Linked DNA regions of Homo sapiens: regions 2 and 3 are each linked to region 1. Evidence: fine-mapped expression QTL. A gene starts in region 1. Each other region holds a variant in brackets. All regions are shown on one strand. Distances are between the middles of the regions. Region 1 holds the start of SEC14L2 (SEC14 like lipid binding 2). Region 2 overlaps SF3A1 (splicing factor 3a subunit 1). Region 3 overlaps LOC105372990 (a long non-coding RNA gene).

Region 1 (5,252 bases):
ATCTCCTGACCTCGTCCTGATCCGCCCATCTCGGTCTAAAGTGCTGGGATTACAGGCATGAACCCCCACGCCCGGCCAACTGGACTTCTCTTTAACATAGTTCAACTCTGCAGACACTCCCTGGGCACTCATGCTGCCTGGAGCACTGTCTTGTCAGGGGGTGCCAGGTTGCAGGGCAGGAAGTGGGAAGGGAGTGAGACACTGCCCCTGCCCCACAACAAGGGCTCCCACACACCAGTCTGCGGGCAGGCAGATGTGTTCCCAGCTAATCGTGATAGTAGGCACTCTGATACGGACTGCAGTAAAAGCTGTCAGTTTACCAAGCATTTCCTGTCGCTCAGCGCTGATCTTGGCACCATAGCTTATTTACTCCTCACTCACAACCCGTAGAAGTATTGTCCCCATTCTACAGATGAAGGAATTAAAGCTCAGAGAGGCTAAGTAACATGCCCAAGGTCAAACAGCTAGTCATTAGCAGAGTTGGGATGCAAACCCGGGTCTGTCTGAGTCCAGAGCACACACTCTTTCCACCATGGTCTTCTGCCCCATGGAAGGATGAGGAGTTTGCTGGGGAGCAGAGGGAAGAAAGAGGTGGTCTCACACGGCTTCCTATAAAACATGGCATTTGTGCTGGGCTTGAAGGACTTCAAAGGCAGCGGGGGAGAGAGGTGGGCAACTCAGGTGGAGGGAACAGTTCCAGTAGGGGAAGCCAGGAAGCGGGAAAGTGCAGGTAGTGCCAAACAAAGGAGGTGGACAGTGACCTCAATGGACAGCCACACCTACCTCCAACCTCTCACTCCCTGGTAGGCGAACAGGCCCCTATATGCCCTCCCTGAGCCTCCTGCTCCCAGCCATTCACCTTTCCCTGACCACTGACCTAGAGGGCAGTCCCAGAGGACACTAATGAGGACTGGCCACCTCTGCCCCTTGCCTAGGTCAGCCAGGGACTCAGACCATCCCACCCCACAAAGCAGCTCCCAGTGCACCAGGGAAACTGCTCCTCCAAACTGCAGGCATGAAGCTACCCCTCTCCAAGGACCCTAACCAGCCCCTGGTCTCCAGTTTAATCACCACCTAATCCCTTCTCTGCCTGACCTCTCCTGCGAGTCAGCAGTAAAATCTGAAGCCTCCCTGTCCAGCCTTCCTGGGATGGGGGAGGCCCAGCCTGGGACAGAGGCTTTATGGAGCTGGTGCCTCCCCACTGCTGCCAGTGGCAGGATACATCTGCCCCCCGCCCCACCTTTCCCAGCCATGGAAAACTCCCCAGCTGTGGAGCCTCCAAATCTTGGGGCCAGACCCTATCGGCTCTTGCCCAGAGAAGAGCCGACCTCCTCACTCCCCAGGGGTGACAGATAAGAGATTTAGTTCGTGAAGAGGAAGGTCCCGCCCTCAAACTGTTGCCCCCTCCTTGTCACAGATGCCAAGGCAAAGCCAGGCTCACCTTCTTGCCTTCTGAGGAGCATAAACCTTAAGTCCTGAACCAGGCAGGGGTCTGGGATGCAAGATAGGGGACGGCTGGTCTCAGCTCAAACTAACACCAACCCAGTGCCTCATGGGGGGAGCCTGGAATTCACACACGGAGGTGTTCCCTTCAACATCATCTGGTCCAACCTCCTCATTCCATGGCATCGAGGAGCAAAGAGAAGGGCAGGGTTTTGCCCAAGGTCGCACAGCGGCTTGGTGCCGGGGCAGGAGCTATCCAAGTCTCCCAAGGAGCTATCCAGAGCCCTTTCCATCGTGCCACTGACCCTACAAGAAGAAAGCCTCCCGGAAATGGGAGGAAACTTGGGCCCCTGCCCCTGCCCCTGCCCCAGGGCCCGGCTGCCAGTCCCGAGGATGAATGTTGCCTTTGTGCCCTCAGCGGCCTCCGGGGACTCACAAGCAACCACTTGTCCCCAGGTGGCACCGCCACGGCTGCTCAGAGCTTGGGCGGGGGGTGGCCAAACTTCCTGGGACCTCGAGGGTGGCAAAGGGAGGAAGGAGCCATCCGCGGGCGCGGGCCAGGCTGGGACAGCCGCCTCTGTTCCCTCCGCCGCCCGCCACGGACCCTCGGCCCCCACCCAGCCCCGTCCCTTCTCGCTGCCGCAGGAGGGCGAGGGCCACAGCCCGAGGCGGGAGCCCGGGCCAGGGCTACAGCTCACCTTGGCCAATGCCTCCTTCTGCCTGGGGCTCAGATCGCCGACTCTGCCGCTCATCGTGGCTCAACCGCGGGGATGGGGTTTGGGGGCGGGAGGCGGCGGGTGCGGCAGCTGATGGAGCACAGACTCGTCCTCGCCGCCACCCGGAGTAAAGTCCCAGCCTTTTGCCCGGGCCGCGGAGCTGGCAGCCAAGCCCCGCCTCTTAAAGGATCCCGAGAGGCGGAGTAGGGAGCGATGCGCTGGGGCGCGGAAGGCTCTGACACGGGCCCCCTCCGCCCTCCTGAAGTCAGAGACCCAGGCAGGAGGCGAGCAAGTGTGCCCACTGGGACTGAGGCCAGTGGGCATCAGAAGGGCAGGGAGTCTCAGTTTTAGTTCCAAATTTATCCTTACCTCATTGTGTGACCTTGGAAGAGACACCTGAGCTCTCTGGGCCTCTGAACAAGGAGGGATTGAAAGGTGCTATCTAATGAGCTCTTCTAACCAGGCTCGCATAGTGCAGGACAGCACAGCATCCTGCACACAGGGATTGTTTTTGCATTGTTTTTTTTTTGAAACGGAGACTCGCTCTGTCACCCAGGCTGGAGTGCAGTGTCACGACCTCGGCTCACTGCAACCTTCGCCTCCCGGGTTCAAGCTATTCTCCTGCCTCGGCCTCCCGAGTAGCTGGGATTACAGGTGCACGCCACCATGCCAAGCTAATTTTTGTATTTTTAGTACAGATGGGGTTTCACCATGTTGGCCAGGCGGGTGTCGAACTCCTGACCTCAAGTGATCCGCCTCGGCCTCTCAAAGTGCTAGGATTACAAATGTGAGCCACGGTGCCCAGCCTACAGGGATTATTAATAAATGTATCCTGAATGAATGAATGAATGTAAGAACTGCTCCAATAGAGACACAGATCCCGGGGCTGGCAGAACCCTGAGAGGGAGAGAGAAACATAGATCATTCAGGGATCATGCAACTTACCTCGTTTAACAGCTAGGGAAACTGAGGCCCAGATAAGGCATGGCTTGCCCAAAGTTGTTAGTGGCATGACATATGTGGAGTGCCCACTGCCTGGCACATGGAAAGTGCTCAGCTGTGCCCTCCCCTTATGGCCTGGAATTAATGCAGAGCTAGGTCCAGGAGTCTGTGGGCATCTCGTCTCCCAGAGCCATACTTCTGCCCCCTCAACACTCAAGTCTCTGGGAGAGACAAAGCAGAATGTCCCCAGTCTCTCTCCTTACCTGGAGGCAAAGGCACCAGGCCTGTTAAAGACATTTAAGGACTTTGCTCTGCCCTTGGTGTGGCCCCCTCCATAGACGCCTGCTGCAGGGTGCAGAGTGAGGGTTGAGGCCCCCAACGCCCACCTCTACAGAGAGTTTTCAGGCAGTTCTGCCCTAGTTAGGCTCGCTGGCTTCTGGCCTGGGGCAGGACAGGGCTGCCTTCCTTACTGGATACATGGCTAAGATCTTTATATAAGACCCTTCCAGGGCCAGGATATTCTTTCCAGGCTAGAGCCTACTCAAAGGAAACTATTATAGAAGAACAGCATCTTGGCCGGGCGCGGTGGCTCACACCTATAATCCCAGCACTTTGGGAGGCCAAGGCAGGCAGATCACCTGAGGTCAGGAGTTTGAGACTAGCCTGGCCAACATGGTGAAACCCCGTCTCTACTAAAAATACAAACATTAGCTAGGCGTGGTGGTGTGCATCTGTAGTCCCAGCTACTCAGGAGGCTGAGGTGGGAGAATTGCTTGAACCTGGGAGGCAGAGGATGCAGCGAGCTGAGATCACACCATTGTACTCCAGTCTGGGGCGACAGAGCAAGACTCCCTCTAAAAAAAAAAAACAAACAAACAAAAAATAAAAACAAGAAGCACAGCCTCTTATATTGGTTCAGCAACTTAGAGCTCACAAGGTACCTTCAGATCTAGCTTGTCACTTAAGTGTGGGACAATCCTCTAAGGTAGGCAGGTCAGGTGACTTATTGAGGAGCCTGAGGGAGAGGTGGTCATAGGTGGGCACGTGCAGAGTTGGGACTTAAACCCAAGTTTGTGGTTTCTAGGCCGTATGCTCCCAGGCCAAGGTGTGGACGGGCCTGGGAACTGCCTGCGAAAGTTACCCACGAAAGTACAAGATCACCTTCACCCAGCAGGATACAGCCCTCCCCGCATCTGAAGTTACCCAAATAAAAGCCTCGGTAAAGAACCCTTCCCCAGGCCTGCCCTTCCCAGGTTCAACAGCTGCCTCTTTCTTCTTCCTCCACTGAGACTTAACCTACTTCTGGCCCACCATAAAACAGCTAGTTAATTTGATCATATAAATCCTAAATAGGCCCAGGCTCGGTTGCTCACACCCGTAATCCCAGCACTTCGGGAGGCTGAAGTGGGTGAATCACCTGAGGTCAGGAGTTCAAGACCAGCCTGGCCAACATGGTGAACCTCGTATCTACTAAACATACCAAAAAAAAAAAAATTAGCCAGGCATGGTGGCACACACCTGTAGTCCCAGCTACTTGGGAGCCTGAGGCAGGAGAATCGCTTGAACCCAGGAGGTGGAGGCTGCAGTGACCCAAGATGGCACCATTGCATTCCAGCCTGGGCGACAAAGCAAGGCTCTGTCTCAAAAAAAAAAAAAAAAAAAAAAAAAACCTAGCCAGGCACAGTGGCTCACGCCTGTAATCCCAGCACTTTGGGAGGCTGAGGCGGGTGGATTACCTGAGTTCAGGAGTTTGAGACCAGCCTGGCCAACATGGTGAAACTAAAAATACAAAAATTAGCCGGGCATGGTGGCGGGCGCCTGTAAACCCAGCTACTTGGGAGGGTGAGGCAGGAGAATCGCTTGAACCCAGGAGGCAGAGGTTGCAGTGAGCCGAGATCACGTCACTGCAGTCCAGCCTGGGCAACAGGAGAGAAACTCGGTCTAAAAAAAAAAAAAAAAAAAAACAAGCAAACAAACAAAAACACATAAATAAATAATCTGGTGAAGTCCTGGAGCTGGCTAACAAGAGAGAGTCCCTCCTTCCCATCCCCACTTTTTCTCCATCCCCTAATCCCTGCCCTACAGTTCTTCCTCCCTGCTAGGTATGTTGCACCCCTGCTCAAGAATCTTCAATGGCTCCCCGGTTCCTTC
Region 2 (5,157 bases), 65 kb after region 1:
AATACTTAATTGTATTAAGGTCATGTACCAAGGATTTGATAAAGTTTAAATAATTTACTCTCTACTTTTATCCATTTTATCCATTTTAACTCATGTAATCCTCATGTGAGTATTCCTGTTTAACACTTGAGTAAACTGAGGCACAGAGAACATAAGTTGCATGCCATAGTCACACACTGTGAAAGTGAAAAGAGAATGTGTGCAAAACACGTCACAGTCCTGGTTTCTGAGTAAAGGCAGGCTGTTATCTTTAGAATCAAGCTATCACAGGGAGATAGGCAATGCTGTGGGTGTTGGAGGAAGGTGAGAGCCTGTTGCTAACAATTTCCTGGTTTTAAAGCTAAGGCTGATTTTATTGGGAAGATCTCACATGTGTGTGGCCCCTGAGAGTTCCCAGTGCCTTTTATTTGCAGTCCTTCCATTTGGACCTCCTAGCTGCCCCATCAGGTCATCTCCAGGGCTCAGAGGGGTGAGACCATTTCCCAAGGTCACAGAACCAGCTCTCTAGTCACCACCCTGCCTCTCCCTCTCACCCAGAGTCAGTACCAGTTTTATGGCTTTATTACAAACTGCTGGGTCCCTCCCATTTTCAACTTGATTGATGGGATGTCATCCCTTATCCTGTCTGACATTTGCCTCTGGCCTGGTTGCTAGAAGTTTGCCCCAGGGGCAAGAGTTGAAATTTGGCTTCCTGAGGTGGGCTTTGTGGTTTGCGTCCCTAAAGTGAGCCCACTACTGGTTGCTTGTCCATGGCCAACACCAGAAATCCCCTGAGCACTACCTGGGTCTCATTCCAAGAAGGAAGAGGGTCAGGAGACCTGGGGAGTCTCATATTCCAAGTTCTTCTTTCTTTCTGGGAGCAGTGGGCAGTTCATGGTGTTAGGGCACTCACCCCCACAGACTGGCAAACCCTGCAGGACTTCCGTGGCTGAGGCTGTGACCGGAGGCCAGGAATGCCGTTGGGTGGATTGTGAGTGAATGGGCCCTTTGAGCTGCCCTCTAGAGAGCAAATCCAGTTTCCTGGAGCTCCTGAATGAATATCTGTACTGGCTCGCTCAGATGCAGAAGCTCCATTGACCATGAGGCCTTGTGAACATCAGTGGCCACAGGCCCAGTGTGCTGCTTGGCACTGCACTAGTTTAGGACCTGCAGCATGTAGGTAGCGTCCTAGTGTTTATAATACAAAGCTGCTCTGCACAGCTTTTCTGATTCTTCTTGCAATCTCCTGAGGATTATCTGCCCCATTTTTAAAACGAGGTGGAATACCCAAGGTCATGTAGCCAGTGAGTGCTCTGGAAAGCCAAAGCAGCTCATCCCTTCCTGGGGACCACACTGCTCTGCTCCACCAGACCACACTATGAAATAGGAATAAGTGCTCCTGTTGCAGGACTGCTGGGAAAACAGGTGGTGTGGGACTTAAGTCACCATAATTTTGAAGACTTGCATGCAGAGGGCTCCAGGAATTGTAGACATTAAGGAATTTCACTTTCAGTTCTACCCACTACTTAAGTACTTGTCATGTACTCTTAGAGGAGGCCAGTAATGATCAGAACCATTTTACTTTAAAATTAATAATATTGTATTAGAGAATATATTAAATGGTTATATTGGGTTATGTTAGGATATATACTTGAATGGAAATACATGTACTATTAGCAATCATATTTCATTTATCCCTGTAATTAGACAAGAAAGCATAATATAGCTCTACTCATGGGTACACATACCAGTGTATAAGATTTTTAGAAGTTTACTTTTTAAAAATAAAAGCAAAATGTAAGATCTTAAGAGTTATGATCATTAACTCTACCAGATATGGAGATTTGCTGTTAACTATTCTGTATTGTTACATTTTTTTAATTCTGCATTGTTGCCAGGTGTAGTGGCTCACACCTGTAATCCCAGCACTTTGGGAGGCCGAGGCGGGCGGATCACCTGAGGTCGCGAGTTCAAGACCAGCCTGACCAACATGGAGAAACCCTGTCTCTACTAAAAATACAAAATTAGCCGGGCATGGTGGCACATGCCTGTAATCCCAGCTACTTGGGAGGCTGAGGCAGGAGGATCGCTTGAACCCAGGAGGTGGAGGTTGTGGTGAGCTGAGATAGCACCATTGCACTCCAGCCTGGGCAACAAGATTGAAACTCTGTCTAAAAAAAAAAAAAAAGGCTGCATTGTTATATAAAAGAACACTGCCTGGTGAGTTCCCTGACACCATGCCCTGACACTGCTCCCAGCATGTAAGTGAACAATTCTAGGTACCCCTGGACACTACAGTCCATGAAGCAGGACAAGATAAACTCCTGCCAGGCACAGTGACACACCTGTAGTTCCAGCTGCTTGGGAGGTTGAGGTAAGAGGATTGCTTGAGCCAGGAAGTTCAAAGTCAGCTTAGACAACATAGTGAGAACTCATCTCTAAAAAAGTTTTTTTAAATTAAAATTAAAATAGATCATTACAGAGAATACTGTTATAACAGGTGGCAGGTGCCTGTAATCCCAGCTACTTGGGAGGCTGAGGCAGGAGAATCTCTTGAACCCGGGAGGTGGAGGTTGCAGTGAGCCAGGATCACACCACTGCACTCCAGCCTGGGCAACAGAGCAAGACTCCGTCTCAAAAAAAAAAAAAAAAAAAAAAAGGGCATCTGGACTTTTGCTCATGGCCAGTGCTCACAGGTTTCCTGAGCACATGCCAACTGCACATTCCAGGATCCAGGAGAGGGGCCTATGTGAGATCCTCAAGCCCAGCTGTTGGGAATGACCCCAGCAGGATGAGACTCTGGGATATCAACACATTCTATCTTCAAAAGAATGTCTCCAACAGCCAGTTCACCAGGATGTTCCACAGCATTGCCTAAGGCCTCTTAAATTCTTTATTCCAGTGAACCACGTGATTCTGCAGGGCTCCTTTCTGATCATTTATTCATTGGTTCACTGTTGCCCTTGCTTTCTCACTCCAATCTAACAACACAGCCTCCTTCTCCTTCAAGGGGAAAATCATCTGCTGCCATGCTTGTACACTATTCTCAGTCCTGCAGAAGGGGTCCCTCA[T/C]TTTCAGCCCATACCACCTCCCCAACACCTACTCCAGCATTCTCCATACCTTACCTGGCTTTATTTTCTTATTCTCACTACCTGATAGATGTTCTGTGCTTGTTCATGTTGTCCCTCCTCCACTGGACTATAAACTCTATTGGGCCAGGACTTCATCTCTCTTATTCACTAGAGCAAGCTCGTCCAACCCATGGCCCAGGAGAGCTTTGAATGTGGCCCAACACAAATTTGTAAACTTTCTCTTTTTTTTTTTTAGACAGAGTCTTGCTCTTTCGCCCAGGCTGGAGTGCAGTGGCGCCATCTCGGCTCACTGCAAGCTCCACCTCCCGGGTTCACGCCATTCTCCTGCCTCAGCCTCCCGAGTAGCTGGGACTACAGGCTCCTGCCACCACGCCCGGCTAATTTTTTGTATTTTTAGTAGAGACGGGGTTTCACCGTGTTAGCCAGGATGGTCTCGATCTCCTGACCTCATGATCCGCCCTCCTCGGCCTCCCAAAGTGCTGGGATTATAGGCATGAGCCGCGCCCGGCCCCAAATTTGTAAACTTCCTTAAAACATTATGAGATTTTTTTTTGCAATGTTTTTTAACTCATCAGCTATATCGTTAGTGTATTTTATGTATGGCCTAAGACAATTCTTCTTCCGGTGTGGCCCAGGGAAGCCGAAAGGTTGGACACCCCTGCACTAATGTCTGGCTCATTATAGGTGTATTAAATAAAGAACTCTGGAGTTTGGCCAGGCATGGAGGCTCACGCCTGTAATCCCAACAATTTGGGAGGCCAAGGCGGGAAGATCACTTGAGCCCAGGAGTTCAAGACCATCCTAGGCCACATAGTAAGACCTAATCTCTACAAAAAAATACAAAAGTTAGCAATTTCACACAAGGACACCCAGTTGTTGAGGGGCACAGCCACGAAGTGAAGTCTCCCAAGCCACGTGCCATAGGTTAAATTGGGCAAACTCCCCCGCTGCAGCCACAGGCTGTGATGGGGAACACTCAAGACAATAATGAATTTGCAATTCCTTTTGCAAGCTTCAAATGCCACCACTCCTGGCCATTATTTATTTATTTATTTATTTATTTATTTTGAGATGGAGTCTTGTCTGTCACCCAGGCTGGAGTGGTGTGATCTCTGCTCACTGCAACCTCTGCCTCCCAGGTTCCAGCGATTCTCCTGCCTCAGCCTCCTGAGTAGCTGTGATTACAGGCGCCTGCCACCACGCCCAGCTAATTTTTGAATTTTTAATAGAGACGGGGTTTCACCACGTTGGCCAGGCTGGTCTCGAACTCCTGATCTCAAGTGATCCACCCACCTCAGCCTCTCAAAGTGCTGGGATTACAGGCATGAGCCACCGCGCCCAGCTCCTGGCCATTATTTACTGGGCTTCTCCATGTGCCAGGTGTTTAGCGCATACTGTCACACTAAAGTCTCAGCACAATTCTTCCAAGGAAGAATTTTTTCAGAATTTCCAATTTATAGATGAGGAAATGGGCTCAGAGAGAAGTAATTTGCTCAAGGTCACAGAGCATAAATTCAAATCCTGGTGGTTTGATTAAAGAAAATTAGAAGCTGAAGCATCACTGGAGTAACATCTATACAGTCTCCTAAAGATGAACACTCAGGGTCTCTAATCTACCCCCTCCCCAAATATCCCTGGGGTGAACGTCTCTATATTTGTGCCCTCACAGAGCTGAGTAAGAACATGTTTGGGATATAACCCTAGGGATAGAATCATGAAGTCAAAGGGTCGTGGATACTTTTCTTTGCTGTACTTGAGGCTTCACATCTGCCCCAGGTATGTCTGGCTCCTCCCCCTCCCTTTCCTGGGATAGGCCCATACCACCATGAAAGACCCATACCGCCCCTCCTGGGAGCTGGGACCAGGAGCCCACCACTGTCTGGAGTCACTGAAGAGAAGGAACATCCTCCTAGACTGAGGGTTTAAGACCAAAATAGCCTGTGCCCACTCCCATGTCTGTTCTTGCCTTGTTTATGGAAAGCCAGAAGCTCATGGAATGTGAGGATTGTACAATGACGCCATCAAGAATGTCCAGGCCACATGGCATCAAGGTGAAATCACTCAAGGCTCAAGACCCCCTCTTGGG
Region 3 (5,252 bases), 39 kb before region 1:
CATGATATATGTCTAGAGGGGACAGATAGGAGATGTGGTGCTAGAGTACTGGGGACAGAAGCCACAGGAATGAGCGGGAGCAGCCAGGGTAGAGAGAGGAGGGCCTGAGCCCAGGCTCTTAGCACTGGGGTGACAGCCAGAGAGGTAGAAAGGAATCTGGAGGGAGAGCTCCAGATAGCCAGGAGTCAGTCACAGCTGAGGCTGGCTTTCCCTTCTCCCTACCAGGCAGTTTTGGGGAGGGAATAACAGACCAGGCTTGAGTTTTACCTGTGACCATATATGCTGGGAGGCCTTTGCCAGGTCACTTGCCTTCTCTGATTCTTAGAATGTAAGTCTGGAATGGGGAGCAGTTTATCTACTATGAAAGGGAAATAAATCTGGGGACCTCAAAATCATTAAGCCAAAGGGAAAAGACAAGCTGGGAACTGCATCAGGCAAACTTGCCTCCCATTTTATTCCTAAATAAGATAGCTACAAGGATTAAAAAGCTACATACCTCATGCACATTTTGCCCACAAGGAAATTCCTTGTAGGCCTCAAGATTTTTACCCTAAAACAGTTCTGTTGGATTTCACCCTGGCAATGTAAATGAATAGCTGATCTTCACAGGTGCAGGACAAAGGACAGAACTCAAAGTCATCCCTCTGCTCACCTGAGACAAATGCATCTGATTGCTTCCTCTGCCCTTATTGTTTATGTAAAAATGCAGCTTCACTGAGCCAGACTAAAGCATAAGTGACTATTCCTCTACCCGCCACCCCGGCTCACATGTAAATTGTTATTCAGTGAAAGGCTGATAAGGATCCAAAAGAACACAAACTTTTATCTCTTATCGACCCATGACCTGGAAGCCCCCACCCCACTTCAAGTTGTCCTGCCTTTCCAGACCAAACCCATGTACATTTTACACACATTGATCGATGTCTCATGTCTCCCTAAAGTGTATAAAACCAAGCTGTGCCCCAACCATCTTGGGCACATGGCATCAGGGTGAGGCTGTCACAGGTGCATCCTTAACCTTGGAAAAATAAACTTTCTAAATTGATTGAGACCTGTCTCAGATACTTTTGGTTCACACTACCTACCCTCTGGGTTAGCAAGAGGGTCAGAAGAATGGTGGTAAACTACAGGACTTTCTAGGTATGGAGACCCTGCCTTGTCAATTTCCATGGTATAAATGTGTCCACTATGGCCTATTTCAAGCTTCCCACATAAAGCGATACACAGTAGCACATGATAATGTGGTCTTTCCACCAAACAGAATAGATGTAAATAAGCTCCCAAGAGCATAGATGATAGTAAGGTATAGTAAGGATAGTAAGGATGATAGTAAGGATAGTGAGGATAGTAAGGATAGTAAGATAGTAAGATAGTAAAATATTTACTATTAAGATAGTAAAATGATTACGAGGCAACAAGTTTTGAGCATTTACTTTGTTTTTAGTAAAATGTATTTAAATCTAAGTTTATATCATTTGATCTTTTTATATTGTTTATTTATTTATTTTTTTTGAGACAGGGTCTCACTCTGCCGCCCATGCTGGAATGCAGTGGTGTGATTACAGCTCACTGCAGCCTCAAACTCCTGGGCATAAGCGATCCTCCCATCTCAACCTTCTGAGTAGCTGGGACTACAGGCGTGCACCACCACATCCAGCTAATTTTTATATTTTTTGTAGAGACAGGGCTTCACCGTGTTGCCCAGGCTGGTCTCGAACTCCCGGGCGCAAGCAGATCACCTCCCTCGGCCTCCCAAAGTGTTAGAATCACAGGTATGAGCCACCACACCAGCCTACATTATTTAATTTTTAATAATGGCTGTGTCTAACAACGAGCTCATAAAATTCCTGAAAAGCTAACAATTGGCTGTCATCCCTACTGGCCAGCTGTGACATGCCACTTACTGGTCTACAGGCAAGAGGATATGCAAAGTAAACCTCCAATGGGCCCTCCTCTCTGTCATCCTCAAGAGGCTCAACCTCCGCCCTAGGGGGCTGCTGGGCTTCTCAAACATTAAGGGGCAAAGGCAGGAGTGCTCTGAGCCCAGCCTACCCAAGGCAGCCACAGGTTTGGAGGAAAAACGCACTTCTTTCCACCCCTCCCCACCCCTGTCTGAGTCCTGCCATGCCTAAGACAGTATCCCCAACAGTGGCCCCTGTTCTGGGGACCTCATGTTCCCAGCCCTTCCTCAGGAAAACCAGAGAGCTAAACTCATTGGTGAACATCTCTTTATTGGAAAATCCTGGTGGGTGTAGGGGCTCCTTAGACTCTGGTGCCCGGACCTGCATCTGGACATGCTTCAAAGCTCTGGGTCCTGAGCCAGCAGTAGTAAAGGAAGACACAGATGCCCATCCCCAGGGCAGACAGCAACACCAAGAGCAGAGTCCCTGTTACCAGTGTCAGTGAACTGGGAAGACTTCCATATATAAGAGGGAGAGGCTAGGTAGGGCCTGGAGAGGCAAGAAGTGCGCCAGCAGAGGCAGGAAGTGCACCAGCAGGGGAAGGAAGTACACCAGCAGGGGCAGGAAATACACCAGCAGGGGCAGGAAGTGCGCCAGCAGAGCCAGGAAGTGCACCAGCAGAGGCAGGAAGTG[C/T]GCCAGCAGAGCCAGGAAGTGCACCAGCAGAGGCAGGAAGTGCATCAGCGGGGGCAGAAAGTGCACCAGCAGGGGCAGGAGATACACCAGCCGAGGCAGGAAGCGCCCCAGCAGAGGCAGCAAATATACCAGTAGGGGCAGAAAGTGCACCAGCAGAGGCAGGAAGTGCACCAGCAGGGGCAGGGAGGAGACTGGATGACAGCCCCCATTACCCAGAACCATGTTGTTCACATGGGAGAGGGTGCAGGTATACCAGCCTTGAACGACGCCTATGTGACCTCAAGCCTCAGTTTCCCCATCTATAGAATGGGACCTGATTGTGTCTACTGCATGGGATTATTGGGAGGATTCTTGGGAGGATTAAACAGAAAAATGGAAGCCCTGGCCCCTCCTTTGGCAGGCAGGCAGGCAACAAAGGCAGCATGTATTAACAATATGCAGTGGGCAGCAGTTACTGTTCTGGATAAGGAGGCTCAAAGGGGTAAGTGGCTTCCAAGGTCATGAGGTAAGCAAGCTTACAGCCAGATTGCCTGAGGTTTCAGGCTCTGCCCTGGCAGGCCACAAATGGGGGCCCAGGGAGGAGAGGGAGGGGAGAAGGAGGAAGCCAGAGCCTGGTTCTACAGGGACTGCCAAAGACCACTGGATGCAGAGCTCCAGTGTCTCTCACTGTGAAGGGGACCTGGAGAAGAGCCCAGGCTACAGGAGAGGGCTCCCTTGCTCGTCTCCAGGCCCCCTAGAGTCAGAAGCCTGACTCAGTTCAGAGGACAAGTCAGCCTTCTCTGTCACCTGATTGGAAGCCTTCTCAGGGGCCTGATGGGAAGCCTTCTCAGAGGCCTGATTGGAATCTGGAAGCCAAAGACATCAAAGACAGTTTTAAGCCACAACACAACATCCCCTCACACCCCCAACACACACAGCTATAAACTTCTGACCTTCTACTATTTGTTTACTGATACTGAAAGTTGAGAGAATATGAAGCTATTTTTTTTCCAAGGACAGAAAAGATAACATGTTGTTTATACTATGGTGTGAGTGACTACAAGCCTTCTCTCTCCTCTATGAAACTCTCAGAAGGGCATATATCAAGGGTTATGTGGGTGGAGGTGAAGGGGTCTCCAGATATCTGTTTAATAAAGATTACATGAGAGGCTCAAAAGTGGCAGGCCAATCTAATGCTCTCATTTTGCACTTGGGGAAACCAAGGCCCAGAAAGGGAAAGGATTTGCCCAAGGTCCCACACAGTAGAAGCCTCTCCAGACAGGATCCAGAAGCCAGGACCCTCCTTGGTTCTGATCAATGGGCACCTTGAGTGGGTCTTTGTGGTCCAGGCCAGTGTCAGTTTCCTCAGAGGCCTTTAGTAGCAAGATGATGTCTTCTATAAGCCTGTTCATGCAAGGCTGTGACTGATTCCCCGGGCCAGCTGCCTCCCTTGCCTCAGAGCCTACCTCCACCCTCCACACCCAAAACAGGGGCCTCCTACCTGCCAAGGACCTTTGATAGGGTAATCAGGGGGCCAGGCAGGTAATCTCACAACTGTCACTCATACTCCCAGGGAGGCATCCAGAAGTTCTTACCTAGAGGTGAGGGATGGAGGTGGTCAGTGCACCAGAGATGGGAGCTAGGGGTGGCATGGACCAGACCTGCATTTAACAAGCAAAGAAACAGAGGCTAACAAAAGGTCAGTGACTTGCCCATGATGTCACAGCCAGCAAGAGCTGGAGCTGGGATTTGAACCTGGGTCTAGGTCACAGTCCAAAGCCTCCATTCCCAGTATACCTCACACTGCCCACTCTAGGCCAAAGCAGTTGGGCTTGTGGTCCAGCCAAGCATGGGGAACTATTGCAGAAATTCAATCTGAGCTATTTTGAGCCTCAGTTTCCTCACCTCCCACACAATTAAGTGAGGTCATGTACCTCAAATGCCAGTTACAGGGTAAGGCATGCAGTACACCTTTGGTGAACATGACTCACCATGAGTGCCCCTGTGGAAGGAACAGGCCTTCTTGGTAGCATCAGATGGGACCTTTAGATTCCAGAGCAACAGCTTGTGGTGCACCCCGTAACTTCCAAAGATTCCTCAGCTTGGGTCTCTGTTCCTACGGGGTGGCAGAGTGGGGAGGGGGTTATCTGTTTCCACTCACATCAGCAGGAGTACCAGTAAAGCTGAAGGCCTGGAAGGAGAGCTCCAGTCTCTTGGGGACCTCTTGGGGCACGAAGTGGGAGTGGAAGTTCTTGCCGTTCACCAGGCACCTGGAAGGCACAGGTTGGAAGGTCATCAGGGTCAGACCCCTGAACTGGGATCTGGTCCTAGCCCCAACACCACCATACACCATCATTTGTTGAGAATTCTGCATGCCAAGCACTGAGCTAAGCGTCACCCCATTCAGTCTACACAGCAGGCTTTGAAGATTCTGGCACTATCCCCATTTCACAGAAGGGCAAACAGAGGCTCCAGAGGTGAAAGGGCCAGTAAAGCATTCTTGCTCCCCTGGCCTAGAAAGGACTACTCAAGAACGCCCAGGGAGCACTATCTGGGCATCCGTGCCTTCCAGCCCTGGAAGGCTCTCAGCCCCTGTCCCAGCCTCCCCAGAGATATCACCCACTGAATTGTACCCATCCTACCCTATCCTCCTCCTCCAGGTTCAGTACCCATGATTCC

What was found.
Region 2: its variant is fine-mapped to the expression of SEC14L2 in whole blood (INTERVAL, PIP 0.97).
Region 3: its variant is fine-mapped to the expression of SEC14L2 in whole blood (TOPMed, PIP above 0.99). The same link has a PIP of 0.9 or more in blood mononuclear cells.

Annotation. Positions count from the first base shown.
Region 1 is chr22:30,394,060-30,399,311 of GRCh38, reverse strand. It overlaps SEC14L2 (SEC14 like lipid binding 2), which reads right to left and starts at 2,294. Exons shown (of 12, transcript NM_012429.5): 1 at 2,142-2,294. The coding sequence starts at 2,195. RefSeq lists silencers at 1,902-1,961, 1,982-2,051.
Region 2 is chr22:30,328,619-30,333,775 of GRCh38, reverse strand. SF3A1 (splicing factor 3a subunit 1) reads left to right here. Exons shown (of 16, transcript NM_005877.6): 16 at 1-1,788. Among named protein-coding and RNA genes, the nearest start is that of TBC1D10A, 4.3 kb to the right of the region's middle. The variant T/C (reference allele first, on the strand shown) is at 3,051.
Region 3 is chr22:30,433,208-30,438,459 of GRCh38, reverse strand. It overlaps LOC105372990 (a long non-coding RNA gene), which reads right to left. Exons shown (of 4, transcript NR_148046.1): 1 at 5,216-5,252; 2 at 4,565-4,843; 3 at 4,075-4,168; 4 at 1,959-3,439. Among named protein-coding and RNA genes, the nearest start is that of MTFP1, 10 kb to the right of the region's middle. RefSeq lists an enhancer at 2,121-2,642. The variant C/T (reference allele first, on the strand shown) is at 2,595.